Homo sapiens: one gene and its partners. The protein of the gene in region 3 purifies or fractionates together with the protein of the main gene of each other region. This does not show direct contact. Each region holds a gene or a part of one and is shown on either strand. Other genes may lie near its edges. The genes, in order: MAFF, KNSTRN, DEUP1, HIP1, ANXA13 and DGKH.

Region 1 (3,500 bases), on a different chromosome or scaffold from region 3:
TAAAAAGAAAACAAAGGAAGATGCTTTGTGATCTGAGCTGTAGCATCCTATAAACACGTACCGTATCGGAAAGAGCATCACCCAGTTTTGTGGACAGCAGAGGGCAAAAGCCAGATCCAAGTCCTGGTTCCTTGAGCTGTCTACAGGGTTGACCTCACGGGTTGGCTCAGCCTCTGACACATTCTGGCAGGACCGGGGTGTCTCCCAGGGACAAGGTGCAGAAATGGAAAGCACATGGACCTTGGTGCCAGACACACCTGGGGCCTTTTGGGGGTGGTCTCGCTCTCTAGTTGTGTGGTTCTGATAGGTCAGCCACTCTTTCTGTGCCTCACTTTCCCCCTGGGTGACACAGGTAGCTGTGTTAAGTCAGCTCATGTCACACCTCTCTCAGGACCTTCCCACGGCTCACTGGAGTAAAGCCAGAGTTGTCACCATGGCCCACAAAGTGCTGCAGAAAGTGATCCCCAGTGGCCGGGCGCGGTGGCTCACGCCTGTAATCCCAGCACTTTGGGAGGCCAAGGCGGGTGGATCATGAGGTCAGGAGATCGAGACCAGCCTGGCCAACATGGTGAAACCCCGTCTCTACTAAAAATACGAAAATTAGCCGGGCGTGGTGGCACGTGCCTGTAGTCCCAGCTACTTGGGAGGCTGAGACAAAAGAATCGCTTGAACCCGGGAGGCGGAGGTTGCAGTGAGCCAAGATTGTGCCACTGCACTCCAGCCTGGGCGAGAGTGAGACTCCGTCTGAAAAAAAAAAAAAAAAGAAAGTGCTCCCCAGCATCCCTTCTCCAACCTCAGCCCTACTTGGCTTCCTTTTGTTTCCCCTGCCTCAGCCACACCCGCCCTTCCTCAACACAGGATGCACGCTCCTCTCCAGGGCCTTTGCACTGGCTGGTCCCTCTGCTGGCGTTTTTGTTTTTGTTTTTGTTTTTTATACAGGGTCTCACTCACTCCGTTACAGGCTGGAGTGCAGTGACACGATCACAGCTCATTGCAGCCTCAAACTCCCAGGCTCAAGTGGTCCTCCTACCTCAGCCTCCCTAGTAGCTGGAACTATAGGTGCATGCCACCACACCTGGCCAATTTTTGTACTTTTTGTACAGACAGAGTTTCATCATGTTGCCCAGGCTGGTCTTGAACTCCTTGGCTCAAGCGATCCGCCTGCCTCCGCCTCCCAAAGTGTTGGGATTATAGGCATGAGCCACGACGCATGGCCTCTGTTGGCATCCTTGTTCCCTAGATATCCACAAAGTTTGCTCCATCACCTCCTGAGGTCTCTTCAAATCTCATGTTCACTCAGTTTAGAATTTGCAACCCCTGATACACACACGGACACACACACACACACACACACACACACACACACACACTCCCTGTGTCCCTTCCCCACCTCAGGTTTCCCCATGTGTAATTGTCATCACTCACATATATGGTGGTTATTTGTTCAGTGTCTGTCCCTCCCAACCCCCCGATTAGAATGCCAGCTCCATGAGGGCAGAACTTATACCTGATTCACCGCGGCCTCCCCCATGCCTAGAACCGCGCCTGGCACCTCGCAGATACTCAAGGAATCCTTGCTGAGTTCTCAGTGTGACTCAGGCCAAGGTGGGGACAGTCCAGGGCTTCTCAGGAAACTCCCCAGCTCCTCCCAGCCCACACAGTCAGGGGGTCTGGCAGCTCACAGGGAAGGAAGGAGTGGGACAGAAGGAAGTTGGCGCTTGCAGAGATCCCCTGACAGGGGCAGCCACTGTGGCCCTTAAGCAGGAGAGTCTTAGGGGTCACCCAGGTTTCGCTGGGGGTAGCTGGGTGGACCCAGAGTGCCAGGTCAGGACCCAGGCAGCTTTAGACCCCTGTGCGGATCCACGGTGAAGACCAGTGGCTTCATGGGGTGACCCCTGAGCTGCGACCCCCCACTGCTGAACATGCCGGCTTAGCCTGGGCTCTGGCCTCAGTTTCCCTGCCTAGCACTCCAAATCCTAGGGGGCTCAGGCCCTGGCTGCCCACCTAGCTCTCCTTGGGGGCCTCTGTGCACTCCCATCCTACCTGGAAAAGTCATATGAGATCTGCTGGCTACCCTGACCTTTCAGATACTATCTGGAGACGTTTACATGTCAACCTCACCGATCCTACCTTTCAATGCAGGCCTTTTTTTTTTCCCTTTTTTTTTTTTTTTTTTTTTTGAGATGGAGTCTCGCTCTGTCGCCCAGGCTGGAGTGCAGTGACAGGATCTCAGCTCACTGCAACCTCCGCCTCCTGGGTTCAAGCGATTAGCTCTGCCTCAGCCTCCTGAATAGCTGGGACTACAGGCGCCTACCACCACGCCCAGCTAATTTTTGTATTTTTAGTAGAGACAGAGTTTCACCATATTGGTCAGGCTGGTCTCGAACTCCTAACCTCAGGTGATCCACCTGCCTCGGCCTCCTGAAGTGCCGGGATTACAGGTGTGAGCCACCACGCCCAACCCAATGCAGGCCTCTTAAGTGGTCACCCTCACCACCCTACACACACCTGGGGAGGTCCCAGCACACCTCCCTGCTGGTCTCAGCTCATTCCCACACAGCAGCTGGACAATCTTTGCACCACGCGAATCTGACCATGCCACCAGCCAGATTAAAGCCTTCCATGGTTCGGCTGGGCAAGGTGGCTCATGCCTATAATCCCAGCACTTTAGGAGGCTGAGGCGGGCGGATCACAAGGTAAGGAGATTGAGACCATCCTGGCTAACATGGTGAAACCCCGTCTCTACTAAAAAATACAAAAAATTAGCCGGGTGTGGTGGCAGGCACCTGTAGTCCCAGCTATCAGGAGGCTGAGGCAGGAGAATGGCGTGAACCCGGGAGGTGAAGCATGCAGTGAGCCGAGATCGCGACACTGCACTCCAGCCTGGGCGACAGAGTGATACTCCATCTCAAAAACAAACACAAAAACAAACAAGCAAACAAAAAAAAAACCTTCCATGGTTCCCTACTATCCTAAGGATGGAGTCCAGACCCACCCTCCCAGCACCCCAGGCCCTGTGTGTCCAGCCCCACGCCCATTTCCCACCACTGCCACCTCCACTCTGTGCTCCAGCCACACAGAATTTCTTTCACTTCCTCCCACCCGCGCTTTCTTGCCTCTGAGCCACCTCCCACCCCATGATATTTCTCTCCCCTCACTCCCCTCTACTTTGTTTGGCAGACTCCTACTCATCCTTCGGCCCTGGGTGCAGACATCTCCTCCTCCAGGAAGCCCTCCCTGATCCCTAGGACTTGTTAGGGACCCCCACCCCTGTGTGTAATGGGTTGTATTTCCTTGCTGTCTCTCCACCAGACAGGGAGAGGCTGAGTCAGCTCTGGGTGCTTGAGGCCACCCATCTCAAGACCTGGCAGGGAGCAGGCACTGGGGAAGGGTGGATGGTCAGAGTCTCTGACGCCATCACCCAGCTTGTCACCAAGCCGGGTTCCAAGCCGAAACGTAGTTCAGTACCTCCTGGCCCTGTCTCTAATTCTTCCTCCTCT
Region 2 (3,500 bases), on a different chromosome or scaffold from region 3:
AATGAGATGGTACAAGGATTCAGGCATGTTTTACCTGCTAACTTCCACCCTGCTCTCTGCTGGTGTCCATCTCCATGTTCACTTTTACAGCCTACACCTTTCAGTTCAATGAAACTTTTGGCTACCCTCAAACATGCTGTACTGTCACGTTTAAATAATTTTGGTTTTTATTGCCAATTAGCCTGGAAGTTTTATTCTTTTGAATTAATCTTCACATGTTGAAATTTGCCAGAATGAAAATAAAGATTTGGCCAGGCATCGTGGCTCACGCCAGAGTGGCCAAGGCAGGAGGATTGCTTGAGCCCAGGAGTTCGAGACCAGGCTGGGCAACATAGTGAGACCCTGTCTCTATTTTTAAAATTTTAAAACATATTTGAGGTGCCTATAGTCCAGCTACTCGGGAGGCTGAGGCAGGAGAATCGTTTGAACCCAAGAGGTGGAGGTTGCAGTGAGCCAAGATCACACCACTGTACTCCAGCCTGGGCCACAGAGCAAGACTCTGTCTCAAAAAAATAAATAATACTTTTTAAAATAAAGTAAAATAAAGATTTATGACAACTTCGAATGGGGCTCTGTTTGTTACAGGGTTGCAACTGTCGGGTCATGATGCCAGAAGCTTTACCTCTCATTTTCCTTTGCAGACACACAAACTCGGGCCACTTCTAAGAGTCTCTTACCTGTTAGGTCCAAAGAAGTCGATGTTTCCAAACAGCTTCATTCAGGAGGTCCAGAGAATGATGTTACAAAAATCACCAAACTGAGACGAGAGAATGGGTGAGAACGGATCATTAGTATCCAGTTAGAACATCTTCCTAGAAATTGCTCAATACAAAGAATTAGAAAACAGAGTTTTGGACAACACAAGTCTCCTGAACAACTGGCCTTCAATCAGTGGCCCAGAGCAGTGCAGCATTGCTGAGCTCTGTGCCAGAACCCTCTGTGTTGATCTTTCTGAAGAGACACAGCCAGAGTTATAAGAGGTGTTCTTTCCTCTTTCATCGCTTGCTCTGAGCATACAAGTGGCAGCACTGTAGTCATACAGCAACCCTGAGGGGTAGTCATGCAGGGTGGGGACTAGTTGTTATCCTAGGTTGCTGCTCTGACCACACAGTCCAGCCCTAGTGTGTGTGTATGTCCCCAGCCAGCAGTCAGTTCCAGGTGAGTGAGGTTGACATGAGATAGCCACGCCATCTTGAGAGGAACAGCTCTGTCAGGTTGTTAGGGTGGTCGGAGGCATGCCCCTTTGCTACTAAAAAGCCTTTTCAATAATCTGTGCCGAAGCAGTAATGCATAGTCTCTCAGAGCTCTTAAGCTTGTGCCATTTGCCTTTTATGTCTGGTTCTTTCCTCAGAAACTCAAGCTCTTTGTTCTGCCTGTTCACAGCACACTTAACAGTACTGTAAGTCTCTGATTCATTTCTTTGTTTCTGCCCTCCTAGGCAAATGAAAGCTACTGACACTGCCACCAGAAGGAATGTCAGAAAAGGGTGAGCATCAGGGTAAATCAACTTGGCCACTATTCTAGGGTAGTGGATCTCAATCCTTGGTTCTGCATCAGAATCATTTGTGGGACTTGTTTACTGTGTTAGGGTCTGGGTTCCACCTCAGGAACCTGAGTGGAATTTTCAGGGGTGAGGCACAGCTAGGTGTAAGAACCATTGTCAGTGCAAGAATCACTGGTGCTACTATCTTGTGTCTCAAGCAAGAGCTTTTTGGACTCCACGCCAGGACCACTGCTGATTGGAAATCACACTTAGCTATGGCCCATCAACAGGAGGGTAAAGCCTTCAGGAGAGGAAGGGCTGGGTGTATGTAGTTAGTGATCTCGAGATGAAGATTCTGGTGGTGGTGGTGGTGAAAACCTGGAGAAGGATTCATGTCTCATCTTTGAGGCTAGTTTGGAAGTTTTGCACTATCAGAAATAGAAATAATAAGCTGAAAAGTCTGTACAAATAGGTTTTAGTTCCAGATCTATTATTTGGGCATATCTTAAAAGTTTTGAAGACAGCAGGGCACACCAGCTCACACCTGTAATCGCAACACTTTGGGAGGCCAAGGTGGGTGGATCACCTGAGGTCAGGAGTTCGAGTCTAGCCTGGGAAACATGATGGGACCCCATCTCTACTAAAAATACAAAAATTAGCCAGGCATGGTGGCGCATGTCTGTAATCCCAGCTACTCAGGAGGCTGAGGCAGGAGGATCACTTCATCCCGGGAGGCAGAGATTGCAGTGAGCCAAGATCACGTCATTGCATTCCAGCCTGGGTGACAGAGCAAGACTCTGACTTACAAAAATAAAAAAGTTTTGAAGACAAAATACTAGCAAAAAAGACTGAGAACTTTAAGAAAAAACTCTAATATTGGTTGCTGAGACCAGCTTGGTCGGGGAGACCCTAACCCAGCGGCGCTAGAGGAATTAAAGACACACACACAGAAATATAGAGGTGTGAAGTGGGAAATCAGGGGTCTCACAGCCTTCAGAGCTGAGAGCCCCGAACAGAGATTTGCCCACGTATTTATTAACAGCAAACCAGTCATTAGCATTGTTTCTATAGATAGTAAATTAACTAAAAGTATCCCTTATGGGAAATGGATGGGCTGAATTAAAGGAATAGGTTGGGCTAGTTAACTGCAGCAGGAACACGCTCTTAAGACACAGATTGCTCATGCTATTGTTTGTGGCTTAAGAATGCCTTTAAGGGCCGGCGCAGTGGCTCACGCCTGTAATCCCAGGATTTTGGGAGGCCGAGGCGGGTGGATCTCAAGGTCAGGAGACCATCCTGGTTAACTATGGTGTTTCACCGTCTCTACTAAAAATACAAAAAATTAGCCAGGCATGGTGGCGGGTGCCTGTAGTCCCAGCTACTCGGGAGGCTGGGGCAGGAGAATGGTGTGAACCCAGGAGGTGGAGCTTGCAGTGAGCCGAGACCACGCCACTGCACTCCAGCCTGGGCGACGGAGCGAGACTCCATCTCAAAAAAAAAAAAAAATGCCTTTAAGTGGTTTTCCGCCCTTGGCAGGCCAGGTGTTCCTAGCCCTCATTCCCGTAAACCCACAACCTTCCAGCATGGGCATTAGGGCCTTTATGAACATGTTACAGTGCTGCAGAGATTTTGTTTATGGCCAGTTTTGGGGCCAGTTTATGGCCAGATTTGGGGGGCCTGCTCCCAACAATTGGTGATATTAGAGTTTATTAGATGATAAACTAACATTAGATAATAGCCCAGCTACTGGGCTAAGAAATGCACACGTGTTTTCTCTCTTATTACTCATAATAATAATACTATGAGATGTGGGTATTGTCCTGATTTCAAAAATGAGGAAACAAGGCCTCAGGGAGGTTATGCAACTCACTGAAGGTCATATACCACTGTGTAATAGCCAGGATAGAATGGGACGTGTTTGTGTAACTCTGTAGGCCGTATTTTTCTTTCTTTTTTTTTTAGACGGAGTTTTGCTCTTGTTGCCACCCAGGCTGGAGTGCAATGGCGCAATCTCAGC
Region 3 (3,500 bases):
CTGACCAACATGGTGAAATGCTGTCTCTACTAAAAATACAAAAAATTATCCGGGTGTAGTGGCACGTGACTGTAATCCCAGCTACTCAGGAGGCTGAGACAGGAGGATCACTTGAACCTGGGAGGTAGAGGTTGCAGTGAGCCAAGATCGTGCCACTGCACTCCAGCCTGAGCAACAGAGCGAGACTCCATCTCAAAAAAAAGAAAAAAGAAAAAAAAGAAACCACCCCCGTGCCCACCAGCCACCCCCCAACACACACACACACTCGGGATCACAATTCAATGTGAGATTTGGATGGGGACACAGAGCCAAACCATATCCCCCAGCATAGTCAGATTCTGGTGAGGGCCCTTCTCCTGGTTCACAGATAGCTGTCTGCTCTTTGTATCCTCAGATGGCAGGGAGAAAGAAAGAGAGAGGAAACAAAATCTCTCATAGCTCTTCTTATAAGAGCACTCATCCCATTCATGAGAGCTTCACTCTCATGACTTAATTACCTCCCAAAGGCCCCATTTCATAATGCTGTCACTTTGGGGTTTAGGCTTGACATATGTATTTGTTGTGGGGGACACAAACATTCAGTCCTTAATAGTCACTAAATAAGTCCAAGCCCCACCCTCTAAAAAAACAAGAGGAGAAATTTGGCAACTGAGTGAATGAAGGAAAAAATATTTCGTGTCAAGAAATAGAAAGAAAGTAGTGGCAAATGCAAAAAAAAAAAAAAGTTGTTTGAAATTCCCTTATTAGTAATAAGTATTTGTTATAAGACAGACTTTTTACATTTTTAACAATAAGTGACAAATTCTGTATTTTCCTAGCAAAAATTAGAGATGGTAAAAAATCCAACATGAATGATTTGACACCTTTTCTTTTGTTTGTTTTCCCTAATAGGTAAAGAATGGATTTACGGCCGGGCGCGGTGGCTCACGCCTGTAATCCCAGCACTTTGGGAGGCCGAGGCGGGCGGATCACGAGGTCAGGAGATCGAGACCATCCTGGCTAACACGGTGAAACCCCGTCTCTACTAAAAATACAAAAAATTAGCCGGGCGAGGTGGCGGGCGCCTGTAGTCCCAGCTTCTCGGGAGGCTGAGGCAGGAGAATGGCGTGAACCCCAGGGGGCGGAGCCTGCAGTGAGCCGAGATTGCGCCACTGCACTCCAGCCTGGGCGACGGCGAGACTCCGTCTCAAAAAAAAAAAAAAAAAAAAAAAAAAGAATGGATTTACTTTTTTTTTCTCAGAATGAAGATGTACAAATGAAAGAAGCCTTATTTGCTGTACTTTAAAATGAATAACATTTTTAAATATGTTTGTCTCCCCACTTTTTAAAAGGAATTTAGAGCAAAGTCAAGAGAATGGGACAAGCAAGAGATATTATATCAGACTCATCTGATTTCTTTAGATGCTCAACAAAAATTATTATCTGAGAAGTGTAATCAGTTTCAGGTAAGTTATCTAATACTATTCTCTAAATCAAAAGCAGAAGTTAAATATTGGTATCTTTACCATTCACCAGTAATCTATTTACAAACAGACATGCCAACTAAGAAAAAACGAGAGTAGGTCCAAAGGTGGGTACAGTCACAAGTGCATAGAATATCTGTTAATGGTGAGTTTAGTCTACATGTCTCAAAGGATGGAGCTATTTAAAATTCCATTGTTATTGTGTCATTAAATAGCATATGTTTTTGCATGCCTACAGGCAAGGCACTCAAAGAATTTACGATTGCTTGCTTTACTTTGTATTTCCCTGGCTACTTGTAAGACTGAACATCTCCTCATATACTTTTTAGCCTATCTCAGGTCTTTCTGTGAATTGCCTATTCATAAACTTTGCCCATTTTTCTTTTGCATTGTTTGCCCTTTTCTTATTGATGTGTAGAAGTGTTTGTACACTAGGAATTATTAACTCTGTTACATGCATTGACAACTTTTCCCCTACAATCAAATTGTTTGTTTTTATTTATTTTTGGTTATAGACTTTTTTCAACCATTGTATAATTGAATTTTTTACACCTTCTAGATTTTTTTTCTTGCTTAGTATGGCTTTACTACCACTAACCTCCTTCTCTACTCTACATCTTTGCTCTGAGGTTATACAAATATATTTTCTCTATATGCCATCTGAAATTGAAATTTTAAAACAAATATAAGACTGAATTACAAAGACCCAACTTTCATTATGTAGTAACATATTTAAAGATATTCCTACTAATTCTTTTCTATCATTCTTGAACTTCATGTAAGCTTAAATATGACATTCTTCATTTGAGTTACACAGTTTTTATATTTTTCAGAAACAGGCACAAAGTTACCAAACTCAACTAAATGGTAAAAAACAGTGCTTAGAAGACAGCAGCTCTGAAATTCCTCGTTTGATATGTGACCCAGATCCCAATTGTGAAATCAATGAAAGAGATGAGTTCATTATTGAAAAACTGAAATCAGCTGTAAATGAGATAGCACTAAGCAGGAATAAATTACAAGATGAAAATCAGAAGCTCTTGCAAGAACTGAAAATGTACCAAAGACAGTGCCAGGTGAAGATTAATTTTTTTTCAACTAATATTGTCCATGACTTGTATAAATGGTAACACATATAGAGATTAGAATGATTAGAATGGTAGTTTTCTATTATTAATATATGTGAAGATTCCATTCATATTTCCTCTTAGTAATTCGCACTTGATGCGTAGATTCAATAATCCCATAAGTATGTTACCACACTTAGAGTGCACTTTGGTTCTGCGGTGGCATAATAATAATGTATTACCAGTGCAATATAATAGTGGTCACTTACGGACCTCTATGCCTTTAGCCATGTACTACCCTCTTCCCCCACTATTTTCTCTTACCCTGTGTTTCTTTGACTCAGAAGAATCCTGGGTTAAAGATACAGGAAATCGTGAAGGGTTCAACAATTTAGTAACCTCAGTGAGAGCTATGGAGATGACTCCAGTGATTTATCACTGGTAATCTTATCATAATCATTTATCAAACAGTAACCTAGAATTTATTTTTAGGTAACTTTCACATTGACAAATATGATTGATGGTTTAACAAGCATTAATTTTTTTTCTTAACTGAATAATGTTTTTTTCTTTTTTGTCTATTTCTTGCAACCTTTAGGAAGGTTATACAGCATTCATCAAAATTGGTCATTACCAATTTCTTTACAAAATATGTATTTCTTTTTTTTTTTTTTTGAGACGGAGTCTCGCTCTGTCGCCCAGGCTGGAGTGCAGTGGCGGGATCTCGGCTCACTGCAAGCTCCGCCTCCTGGGTTCACGCCATTCTCCTGCCTCAGCCTCCCAAGTAGCTGGGACTACAGGCGCCCGCCACTACGCCCGGCTAATTTTTTGTATTTTTAGTAGAGACGGGGTTTCACCGTTTTAGCCGGGATGGTCTCGATCTCCTGACCTCGTGATCCGCCCGCCTCGGCCTCCCAAAGTGCTGGGATTACAGGCGTGAGCCACCGCGCCCGGCCCAAAATATGTATTT
Region 4 (3,500 bases), on a different chromosome or scaffold from region 3:
GCCATGTTGGCCAGGCTGTTCTTGAACTCCCGACCTCAAGTGATCTGCCCGCCTCAGCCTCCCAAAGTGCTGGAGTTACAGGCATGAGCCACTGCGCCCGGCCCAACAGAGACTTTTAAAGGCCCCCTGCTCCCCTGGTCCATGAACAGCCCCTCATGCCCCGGTACTCACAGTCGGCAGGCTCAGGTGGGGCTCTGAGGCAGGTGGTGGCACCATGAGCAATGGCGTCGCTGGTCAAGTGGGCCAGCAGGGTTATGGAATGGAGAAGTCCACTGATGTCTGCCAGGATTGGAAAGAGAAGTTTCTCAGGTCTGGTTGATGGTGACACTTTCATACCCTCTCCTCCCGTTTTATGAGTTGCCTACATGCCTTTCTTGTATGAGTTGCCTACATGCCTTTCTTGATGCAGAGGGACCTGTCACTATCCCCGCATTCAGGTGCTTCTGAACCCTGTCTGGCCATCACTAGCCGACAGAGACTGTCCTTGGCCATTCTTACCTTCTGGGCAGGCCAGATACTGGCTCCAGCTTTTCTCCAGTTGCTCGATGCAGCTGGAAATGGATGTGACCGTGGAGAGGAGGTGATCTGTGAGAGGGAACACAGGGCAAGGTCAGAGCAAGTTCTCATAGCTGGCTTCATCCTCGTTAATTAAGCACTGAATGGAGGAGCTTACCTAGTGGGTAAGCTTCCTGCCTAGACGTGAAGTTCATGAGTAATCACCTCTTGATTCAGACCATAGTTTTTTCCTTAGAGAAACAGAATTGTCTGCTCCTGGTGGGTGTTTTATCAGTGTGACCCACTGTCTAAAGCAGTAGCTATCACACCTGGGGGCTTTAGAAAATACTACTGCTGGGCCTGGCGTGGTGTCTCATGCCTGTAATTCCAGCACTTTGAGAGGCCAAGGTGGGAGTTCAGAAGTTTGGGACCATCCTGGGCAATAGAGTGAGACCTCGTCTCTACCAAAAATTAAAAAATTAGCCAAGGCCAGGCATGGTGGCTCATGCCTGTAATCCCAGCACTTTGGGAGGCCAAGGTGGGTGGATAGCCTGAGCCCAGGTCTTCAAGACCAGTCTGAGCAACAAACCGAAACCAAAAATTAGCTGGGCGTGGTGTTGCGTGCCTGTAGTCCCAGCTACTTGGGAGAATGAGTGGGGAGGATTGTGTGAGCCCAGGAAGCGGAGGTTGCAGTGAGCCACGGCACTGCACTCTAGCCTGAGCAACAGAGTAAGACCCTATCTCAAAAAGCGGGGGGGCGGGGGGGGGGAAGAAAATACTAAAATACTAGTGTATAGGCACTAATGCACAGAGTTTCCACATGTAACTGATCTAGGATGGGGCCTGGGCGCCCCTAAGGTAATGCTGACATGCTGCTGGGCTGAGAGCCCCTGAGCTAAGTCTCACATGAGATTCAACATCAACAGAGTCTCAGGCTGTAAGGACCTGGCCCCTGCCAGCTGGGCAATTGCAAGTGTACCTGCAGACCCAGCGCAGCTGATGAGAGGAGGTTCTTCAAGCTGGTTCAGGGCGTCTTGTATCACCTGCTCCGCAGCCTTCCTGGACCCCACCAGAAGCATTTTTCGTTGGTCTTTGGCAAGCTGGCACATAGATTCCTAAAAATGGTCCAGGGAGGTGAGAGTCTGCCCTAGACTCCATAATGAACCTGAGCAGGATGACCTGGCTGGGGCTCTTAGCATCTTAGCTCAAGTCATGGCCAATGAGGTCCAAGCCAGTAAGCCTGAGACAGAGAAAGGCGCTTTAACTGTGTGCACAGGATGTGCGGCTGCCCACGATGTGCGGCTGCCCACAGAGGCTGTGGGGATGGATCACTGCGCCCGCTTCTCATGGCTGGGAGGAGATGCCAAACTTCTCTTCTCATACAAAAAAGACAGCAGTTTGCTTTCCCTCATGGACTCTGCAGGCAATGCAGGGCCTGCTGGCATTACACCTACAGAATGTCTGCACAATCAGGCCAAGGCCCCAAACCCCTTCTCAGCAGCCCCGGGGTCCTCCCAGCCTCCGTGCATGCGCAGAGGCCCTCGGTGGGAATTCACAGGTGCTCGCTCGTGTCCATGTCCGTGACTTGCCTCTGTGCTGGCCAGTTTGAGCTGAGTGTCCTGCAGTTCTTTCCGAAGAGCAGATAATTCCTCCTCCCTATGAGCTGCGCCACTCACCAGGCTGTCCCGCTCCTTCTCTAGCTCGGCGAACTCGGCTGCCCAGTTTGCTTCTGACTGCAAAGGTGACCACAAGGAAAGAGGGAGACGCTGGTTGAGTTAAACAGTCCCTACTTCCCAGAGGTCCAACCCACCACCGGGTTGCAAGGACTGGGAAGGTGATGGCTCTTTAACCTGCCACTCTGATTCCCTCCCGGGGACACACTGATTGCAGTGGGGGCTGACTTGGCCAGGCCAAGGATGGTGGATGACAGCAACGCCAAAGCCAGGGGTGGGGCAAGAAAGGAGGCCGGGCATGAAGGCTCATGTCTGTAATCCCAGCACTTTAGGAGGCTGAGGTGGGAGGATCACTTGAGCCCTGGAGTTCGAGACCAGCCTGGGCAACATAGTGAAACCCCGTCTCTACCAAAGAAAATACAAAAACTAGCCAGGTGTAGGGGTGTGTGCCTGTAGTCCCAGTTACTCGGGGGGCTAAGTGGGGAGGATCACCTGAGCCCAGGGAGGTGGAGGCTGCAGTGAGCTGCGATCGCACCACTGCATTCCAACCTGAGTGACAGAAGAAGACTCTATCTCCAAAAAAAAAAAGGAGGTATTTACCTGGGCAGAAGTTTCCAGGCTGCCTTGCAGAACCTGAAGCTCCCGTTGGCTTGTGGCAAGTTCCTGCTTCAAGCTCTCTAGAACTTCCAGCTGTTCTTGAGTCTGAAAGAGAAGAAAAACAGAGGGACTCTGATCTGGGTGACAGTGACAAAGAATATAAAAATGTAAAAACGTCCCAAGCGATCAACAAGAGATCTGTAAACTCTACTGTATGTAAGTTACACCCCCCCAAAAAAGTGCAGGGTGTGGGAGGAGGAGGCAAGACCCCAGAGTGTACTGAAAATGTGGAATGTCAAGGAAGGATTTTTTATTATTTATTTATTTATTTATTTATTTATTTATTTTTGAGACGGAGTCTCGCTGTTGTTGCCCAGGCTGGAGTGCAGTGGTGCAGTCTCAGCTCACTGCAACCTCCACCTCCAAGGTTCAAGAGATTCTTGTGCCTCAGCCTCCCAAGCAGCTGGGACTACGGGCACACGCCATCACACCTGGCTAACTTTTGTATTTTTAGTAGAGATGGGGTTTCACCATATTGGCCAGGCTGGTCTCGAACTCCTGACTTGGTGATCCACACCCCCCTCAGCCTCCCAAAGTCCTGGGATTACTGCCGTCTCAAAAAACAAACAAACAAAACAAACAAACAAAAAAAAACGCTCATCCCTCTCTCTCTGCCACCCATGTGTTTTCCTTTCCTCAAACTCTCCACCAGCCTCATCCTTGGAAAGCCTTTGT
Region 5 (2,550 bases), on a different chromosome or scaffold from region 3:
GAATAGAGACCACGCTTCATTAAGCTGTAGATAGATCAAAGCTGGAAGGCAAGGGGAAGCCAGGAAAGAGCAAATAGCAGCATCGTAGGAAAGTGATCTTTAAAAAGGATCAAACATTTCATCAAGTCCACATCCCGGATTGCAAACCAAAAGATCGTGGGGAACCTGGAAAAGGTTCAGAGATGAGGCTTGCAAAACAACCCCAGTGAGGAAAAACAAAGAGTAGGGAGGTTGTTGAGCATAGGAGAGCAGGCGGCTGTCCAACTGGATACATTGTCAAGATGATGAAGTTTTGTTCCAGAAGGTTGCTGGCCAATCTGTTTCCCTTCAGAACCCTAGGACAGCACCAGAGATTTCACTCGATAGGGAAAGTTATTTCTGCTGGGAAATAACGAGAATCATGGACGTGGCCGGGAGGGCCCGAGGATGCCACAGCTCTCCTCTAGAGGGTCTTCAGGGGACAGGAGGGGAGCTATGCTTGAAGATTCCAGGTGCTCTGACCAGGGAATCTTCCAAATCTCATTTCGCAACGGTGTCAAGTCAGCTCTTTTCACACCTCTGTCTCACCATCCAGTCAGCTCGAAGGGCAGCCAGGTGACATTTAGGGGGGTCCCAAGGTCATTCCACAAAACGTGAAAGCCTCACATTCTCTTTTCCTTTGTCCTGCCCAGTGAGATGTGCCCAGGATTGTGAGGACTATTTTGCTGAACGTCTGTACAAGTCGATGAAGGGTGCGGGGACCGATGAGGAGACGTTGATTCGCATAGTCGTGACCAGGGCCGAGGTAAGACACACTCCGACTCCAAAGAGGCGGCTGCAACTTCTCTTTTTTCCACCACTGATGTCATCAACAAATAGTTTCTATTAAGGGCCTATTTACAGAAAAAGTAAAACAGAGACGGCCCCTTGCCTTCCCAGAATTTGCAGAAGACATTGTGCTCTGCTTCAATCTGTTTCTTTTTATAAAAATACAATAATGATCGTTGCTTCTTTTTTTGTCCTCTGTGGCTCTGGAGAGCTAGTGGAGGGGCGCAGAGGCAACCATGTCGAGCAGTTCTCAGGGGCTGCAGCTATGCATGGCTCCATGTTAAGGAAGACAAAACAAACACACTTGAAAGAGGTCAACCAGCAGCAGGAACAAAAAGAGAATGATTTCTGAATTCCTGAGTGAGGCCTTTCCTTAACTGAACACACTGCAGAAGCAAGCACATCAGCATAAGGCAATGGTTCTCAATCTTTTTAAAAACTATTGCTGTTCTAAGGAACCTTTTTAGACACGTGTTTCTTCATTGCCATCCCTTCCCCACAAGAAATGTTAACACCAGAGATAATACTACAAATCTGTTTATATACCATGTGGATATCAGTGCTTTATACATAAAAAAATTAAGGGCTTTTTCACCCCCTAAAAACCAATTTGTGCTTGCTCTCGGAGAATGTGTATGTATAAGAAAGAAAAGGGAGAGGAAGAGCCAACGGCTTGGGAGCAGCCGTCAAGATCACAGCTGGTCGGGTGCAATGGCTCATGCCTGTAATCCCAGCACTTTGGGAGGCCGAGGTGGGTGGATCGCCTGAGGTCAGGAGTTCGAGACCGGCCTGGCCAACATGGTGAAACCCCGTCACTACTAAAAATACAAAAATTAGCTGGGCATGGTGGCACACACTTGTAGTCCCAGCTACTCAGGAGGCTGAGGCATGAGAATTGCTTGAACCCAGAAGGTGGAGGTTGCAGTGAGCCAAGATGGTGCCACTACACTCCAGTCTGAGTAACAGAGCGAGACTCGGTCTCAAAAAAAAAAAAAAAAAAAAGGTCACAGCTAACAGTTCGGGATATGGGGCCACAGACAGAAGGTGGTACAAAATAAAGGGGAAGTGGCATTTCATCGGCAGCAGGAGAAGCCTTGGGGAATGAAGTGGAACTAAGCACTTGAAAACCACAGACATCTTCCCTCAAAAAAAAAAAAAAAAAGTGGTTAAATGAAGGGGGAGGTGAAGGGGGAGGGACACCAACCCAAATTCTGATCCATGGCTTCTTAACAAATAATGCTTAACATCTGACACTGTTTTTAAATATAACTTTGCAACAAGATGGTTCTTGCTTTTTTATTTCTATTCCTGGAATTTCTCCTCCCCTCCTTTCTCCTCCTCCACAACTCATCTTTTTCTATTGAAGGCCATGTCTCTCTCTCTCCCCTCTTTCCCTTTGCCAGTCTCTCTGCTCTGCTCCTGCCATGCCTCTGCCTCTCTCCTCCATGGCTCCAAATCCCTCTCCCTCCTTTCTCTCCAGGTCTTCTGCCTTGTCCGTCCCTCTGTCTGTTAGCAACTCGACCTCCAGCCAAAGTCACTGAGAGATGAGAGATCTTGAGGGACTCAAAAGGGACAGGTTGAACACAATGAAGACCCAGGATTCCAAATGACCCCCAGAGAGACTGGATCCATCCGAAGGGCTTGTGAGGGTTCCGTGATCACTCCGACATGGCCCACGGAGTGTTTTATTCCAAGAAGCTCTGTCCCATCTCAGAATCAACCACACGTCCTGGGCCATCTCAA
Region 6 (3,500 bases), on a different chromosome or scaffold from region 3:
TAAGTGAGATGGTTAGGATCAACTTTCTCTTACCCAGTCTGCTTTCAAAAAGATGCTTAAAATAAGTACATAGAGGACCACAATGCAGGTGAAAGTACATAAAAGGCCTGAAAATGATTCAAGAAAAGGACTCCCTGGTTTTGGAGGAAAGAGGTAAAGCATTTCTTTAAAAATCAGTTTTTTGTAATAACTTCTGCTATAGTTATTTATACTTCAAACTTTTTTTAATTAAAAAAAATAAGATAAATGATTTGGTAACGTGTAGAGAGCAGACATTACGAACACACTGTGCTCCATTGTCCTTCATCTTTAGTGTTTTAGTATCTTCCATACTAGTGGTTCTGCTCTTTTTATCTAATCTCTACTTTTTTTTTTTTTTTTTACCTTACAGTGTGATGGGCAGTATATTCCTCTTCCCAGCTTGCAAGGCATAGCCGTGTTGAACATTCCCAGCTATGCTGGAGGCACTAACTTTTGGGGTGGAACTAAAGAGGATGATGTAAGTAATGGGAGTAAATAGTTTGTTTCCTCAAAAATAATTATATCACTGGAATAATTTGCTTTTGTAAATGGGCTGTTGAATAGTAGTTTAATTTCATGTTAAATATTTTGCATTGGGTAAGTGAGGCATGGAATAGATTTATTTAAGATTTTATTGTAACAGTCTCTTGTGGATGTACTCCAACTTTTCTCATGTTGAAGATACAGATATTCGTATCTTGGGATGTATGTCACAATTTTCTGGATGAACATTAAATAGTGGGTCTGCTTTTGGAAAGTAGATTTATGAAATAAGGAAGGGAAGATTTTACTTTTTAATTTTATACCTGCATCTGTTTTCTATCGCTGCTATAACAAGTTAACACAAATTTAGCCACCTCAAACACATTTATCATCTTACTGTTGTATATGATGGGAGACTGGCACAGTCTTACTGGGCTAAAATCAAGGTGTCAGCTGGGCTGTTGCCTTCCGGAGGCTCTAAGGGAGACTCTTATTTCCCTGTCTTTGGAGCGTCTCGAGGCTGCCCACATTCCCCTCCATCTTCAAAGCCAGCAAAGGCAGGTTGAATCCTTCTCACATGGCATCTCTCTGATGTCTGCTGCTTCCTCTTCCACTTTTGATGACCACTGTGATTACATTGGGCCCACCTAGATCACCCAGGATCATCCCCATCTCAAGGCCCTTTATTTAATCACATCTGCAAAGTTCCTTTTGCTGTGTAAGGTAACAGATTCACGGGTTTGGGGGATTAGGACATGGACATTTTAGGGGGCAGAGAGGGGGCATTATTCTGCCTACCACAATACCTTTTGGTACTTTTACTTTTTCTTTCTTTCTTTCTTTCTTTCTTTCTTTCTTTCTTTCTTTCTTTCTTTTTCTTTCTTTCTTTCCTTCTTTCCTTCTTTCCTTCCTTCTTTCTTTCTTTCTTTCTTTCTTTCTTTCTTTCTTTCTTTCTTTCTTTCTCTTTCTCTCTCCTTCCTTCCTTCCTTCCTTCCTTCCTTCCTTCCTTCCTTCCTTCCTTCCTTCCTTCCTTCCTTCCTTCCTTCTTTCTTTTTTGAGACAGAATCTTACTCTGTCGCTCAGACTGGAGTGCAATGGCGTAATCTCAGCTCGCTACAACCTCTGCCTCTCAGGTTCAAGCAGTTCCCCTGCCTCAGCCTCCTGGGTAGCTGGGACTACAGGCACACACCACCACACCTGGCTAATTTTTGCATTTTTAGTAGAGACGGGGGTTTCACCATGTTGGCCAGGGTGGTCTCGAACTTCTGACCTCAGGTGATCCACCCACCTCGGCCTCCCAAAGTCCTAGGATTACAGGGATGAGCCACTGCATCCAGCCTCAGTACTTTTAATTTTCTAAACTTGTGTGTGTATATATTTTTTATTTTCAGAAATATCAAGAGGGCTCATTTGGCCGGTCGAGTTTAGGGCTATTTTTGTTTTTCTTTTCATACTTTTCTATATTAGAAAAAGAAGAAAACACAACCTTACAAATGTAATTGTTGTGAAAAGAATGAAAGAGAGGGCACAATTATTAAAGTGTGTATATATATATATATATATATCAGTAAAAATGAGAAGTGTTATCACAGTCTTTATTTGAAGAGTCACATCCATTGATTTGAGTTTATGATATAATGATATAATGGTTCCTACTGATCTGTTATTCTCAAAGATCTTAAATGGACAGATAGGGATACAGTATAAGATCAATTGGAAAGTATTTGTAATTTTCATGACATAAATATATTCCAGTCCTATTCGAGTATAAAAGCATCTTTTGTCTGCTTGTCACTATTAAGTATTTTGAAGGGGAGAAATCAGTGAGATTAAGGTAAATAAAGCCAACATTCCTTGAACACCTGCTAGGTAGTCCGACAATGTTCTAAGAGCTTCACATTCATTATTTAATGTCCACGTTGTTTATTTGATTTTTACTGCTGAAGAATCTAAGACAAAGTTTCCAGTTAGTAATAGCAGAGACAGGGTTTAAATTCAGGCAGTATAATAAAAAAATTACAAATTACAATGTTAGCAACTTTGTGTCCTGATATTTTCAGTGAAAGTTTTAATTAGCTTATTACTTTATACTGAAAATTGTTTCAGATGCATATTATTTATGATATAGTAAAAGAGAGAGTAAGGTAATACAGCCTACATATAAAATTTTAGAGTAAATTAATTTTGTGAAAATGCATCTAATGTAAAGACAAAATAAGTCTGCATAATTTTTATCTTCTGAGGTTTCTATTTGCATACTCTCAAGTTCCCTCAAAAGTTTTGTATTAAAATATAAAGCACATATGTATATTGCTTGTAAAACCTTGAAAGATTTCCCTTAGAATATATCAAGTAAACTGGATCATAATTTGCATCTTCATTAGCTTTAACTTTATGAAACTATATCACCTTTCTATGACACTATATCGCCTTTGTAGTTTTTTTTAGATTTCCAAAACTTACATGTATCATCTTATTAACATGTTTGAATTAGGTATGAACATGTATTTAACATGTTTTATTCCAAGGTGAATTATTTAGAAATATATTAGTTAACTGGTCCAAAGAGTAGTTTAATGAGAGGTATGAGTAGTATATCCGTGTATATTTGAAAACCCTTTTTAAAGTTAGGTTTATTGGAAGTCATCTTCAGAGATTTTTTTCTTGGATTATTATTTCCTAATAATATTTACTTAAATATATTATTAAATATATTAAATATATGTAGATATATATTGCAGTTTACATTGCTTAACGTGCTCTTCACCTAAACATTCAGTAGAAGTGTAATGTAGTTTTTCTTTCAGATATTTGCTGCACCATCCTTTGATGACAAGATCCTGGAAGTTGTAGCAATATTTGATAGCATGCAAATGGCAGTTTCAAGGGTCATTAAACTGCAGCATCATCGAATAGCCCAGGTTGGTTTCTCTCGTCAAACCTGACTGCACTTCTTGGGCTAAGGAGGGTTGAAGGAATCTATTCTAAACAACTCG

The links.
Region 1: the proteins of DEUP1 (region 3) and MAFF purify together in Homo sapiens (affinity purification with mass spectrometry; 3 studies listed by BioGRID and IntAct, with this or other methods). This does not show direct contact.
Region 2: the proteins of DEUP1 (region 3) and KNSTRN purify together in Homo sapiens (affinity purification with mass spectrometry; 3 studies listed by BioGRID and IntAct, with this or other methods). This does not show direct contact.
Region 4: the proteins of DEUP1 (region 3) and HIP1 purify together in Homo sapiens (affinity purification with mass spectrometry; 3 studies listed by BioGRID and IntAct, with this or other methods). This does not show direct contact.
Region 5: the proteins of DEUP1 (region 3) and ANXA13 purify together in Homo sapiens (affinity purification with mass spectrometry; 3 studies listed by BioGRID and IntAct, with this or other methods). This does not show direct contact.
Region 6: the proteins of DEUP1 (region 3) and DGKH purify together in Homo sapiens (affinity purification with mass spectrometry; 3 studies listed by BioGRID and IntAct, with this or other methods). This does not show direct contact.

The regions. Positions count from the first base shown.
Region 1 is NC_000022.11:38,208,494-38,211,993, reverse strand, and holds part of MAFF (transcription factor MafF), read right to left. Parts: intron 1-3,500. UniProt on the Homo sapiens protein: Since they lack a putative transactivation domain, the small Mafs behave as transcriptional repressors when they dimerize among themselves.
Region 2 is NC_000015.10:40,385,721-40,389,220, forward strand, and holds part of KNSTRN (small kinetochore-associated protein), read left to right. Parts: intron 1-641; coding exon 642-774; intron 775-1,438; coding exon 1,439-1,486; intron 1,487-3,500. UniProt on the Homo sapiens protein: Essential component of the mitotic spindle required for faithful chromosome segregation and progression into anaphase.
Region 3 is NC_000011.10:93,368,742-93,372,241, forward strand, and holds part of DEUP1 (deuterosome assembly protein 1), read left to right. Parts: intron 1-1,331; coding exon 1,332-1,445; intron 1,446-2,296; coding exon 2,297-2,539; intron 2,540-3,500. UniProt on the Homo sapiens protein: Key structural component of the deuterosome, a structure that promotes de novo centriole amplification in multiciliated cells.
Region 4 is NC_000007.14:75,553,942-75,557,441, forward strand, and holds part of HIP1 (huntingtin-interacting protein 1), read right to left. Parts: intron 2,871-3,500; coding exon 2,769-2,870; intron 2,229-2,768; coding exon 2,085-2,228; intron 1,611-2,084; coding exon 1,475-1,610; intron 586-1,474; coding exon 499-585; intron 280-498; coding exon 172-279; intron 1-171. UniProt on the Homo sapiens protein: Plays a role in clathrin-mediated endocytosis and trafficking. Involved in regulating AMPA receptor trafficking in the central nervous system in an NMDA-dependent manner. Regulates presynaptic nerve terminal activity.
Region 5 is NC_000008.11:123,682,844-123,685,393, reverse strand, and holds part of ANXA13 (annexin A13), read left to right. Parts: intron 1-671; coding exon 672-784; intron 785-2,550.
Region 6 is NC_000013.11:42,205,648-42,209,147, forward strand, and holds part of DGKH (diacylglycerol kinase eta), read left to right. Parts: intron 1-391; coding exon 392-499; intron 500-3,311; coding exon 3,312-3,425; intron 3,426-3,500.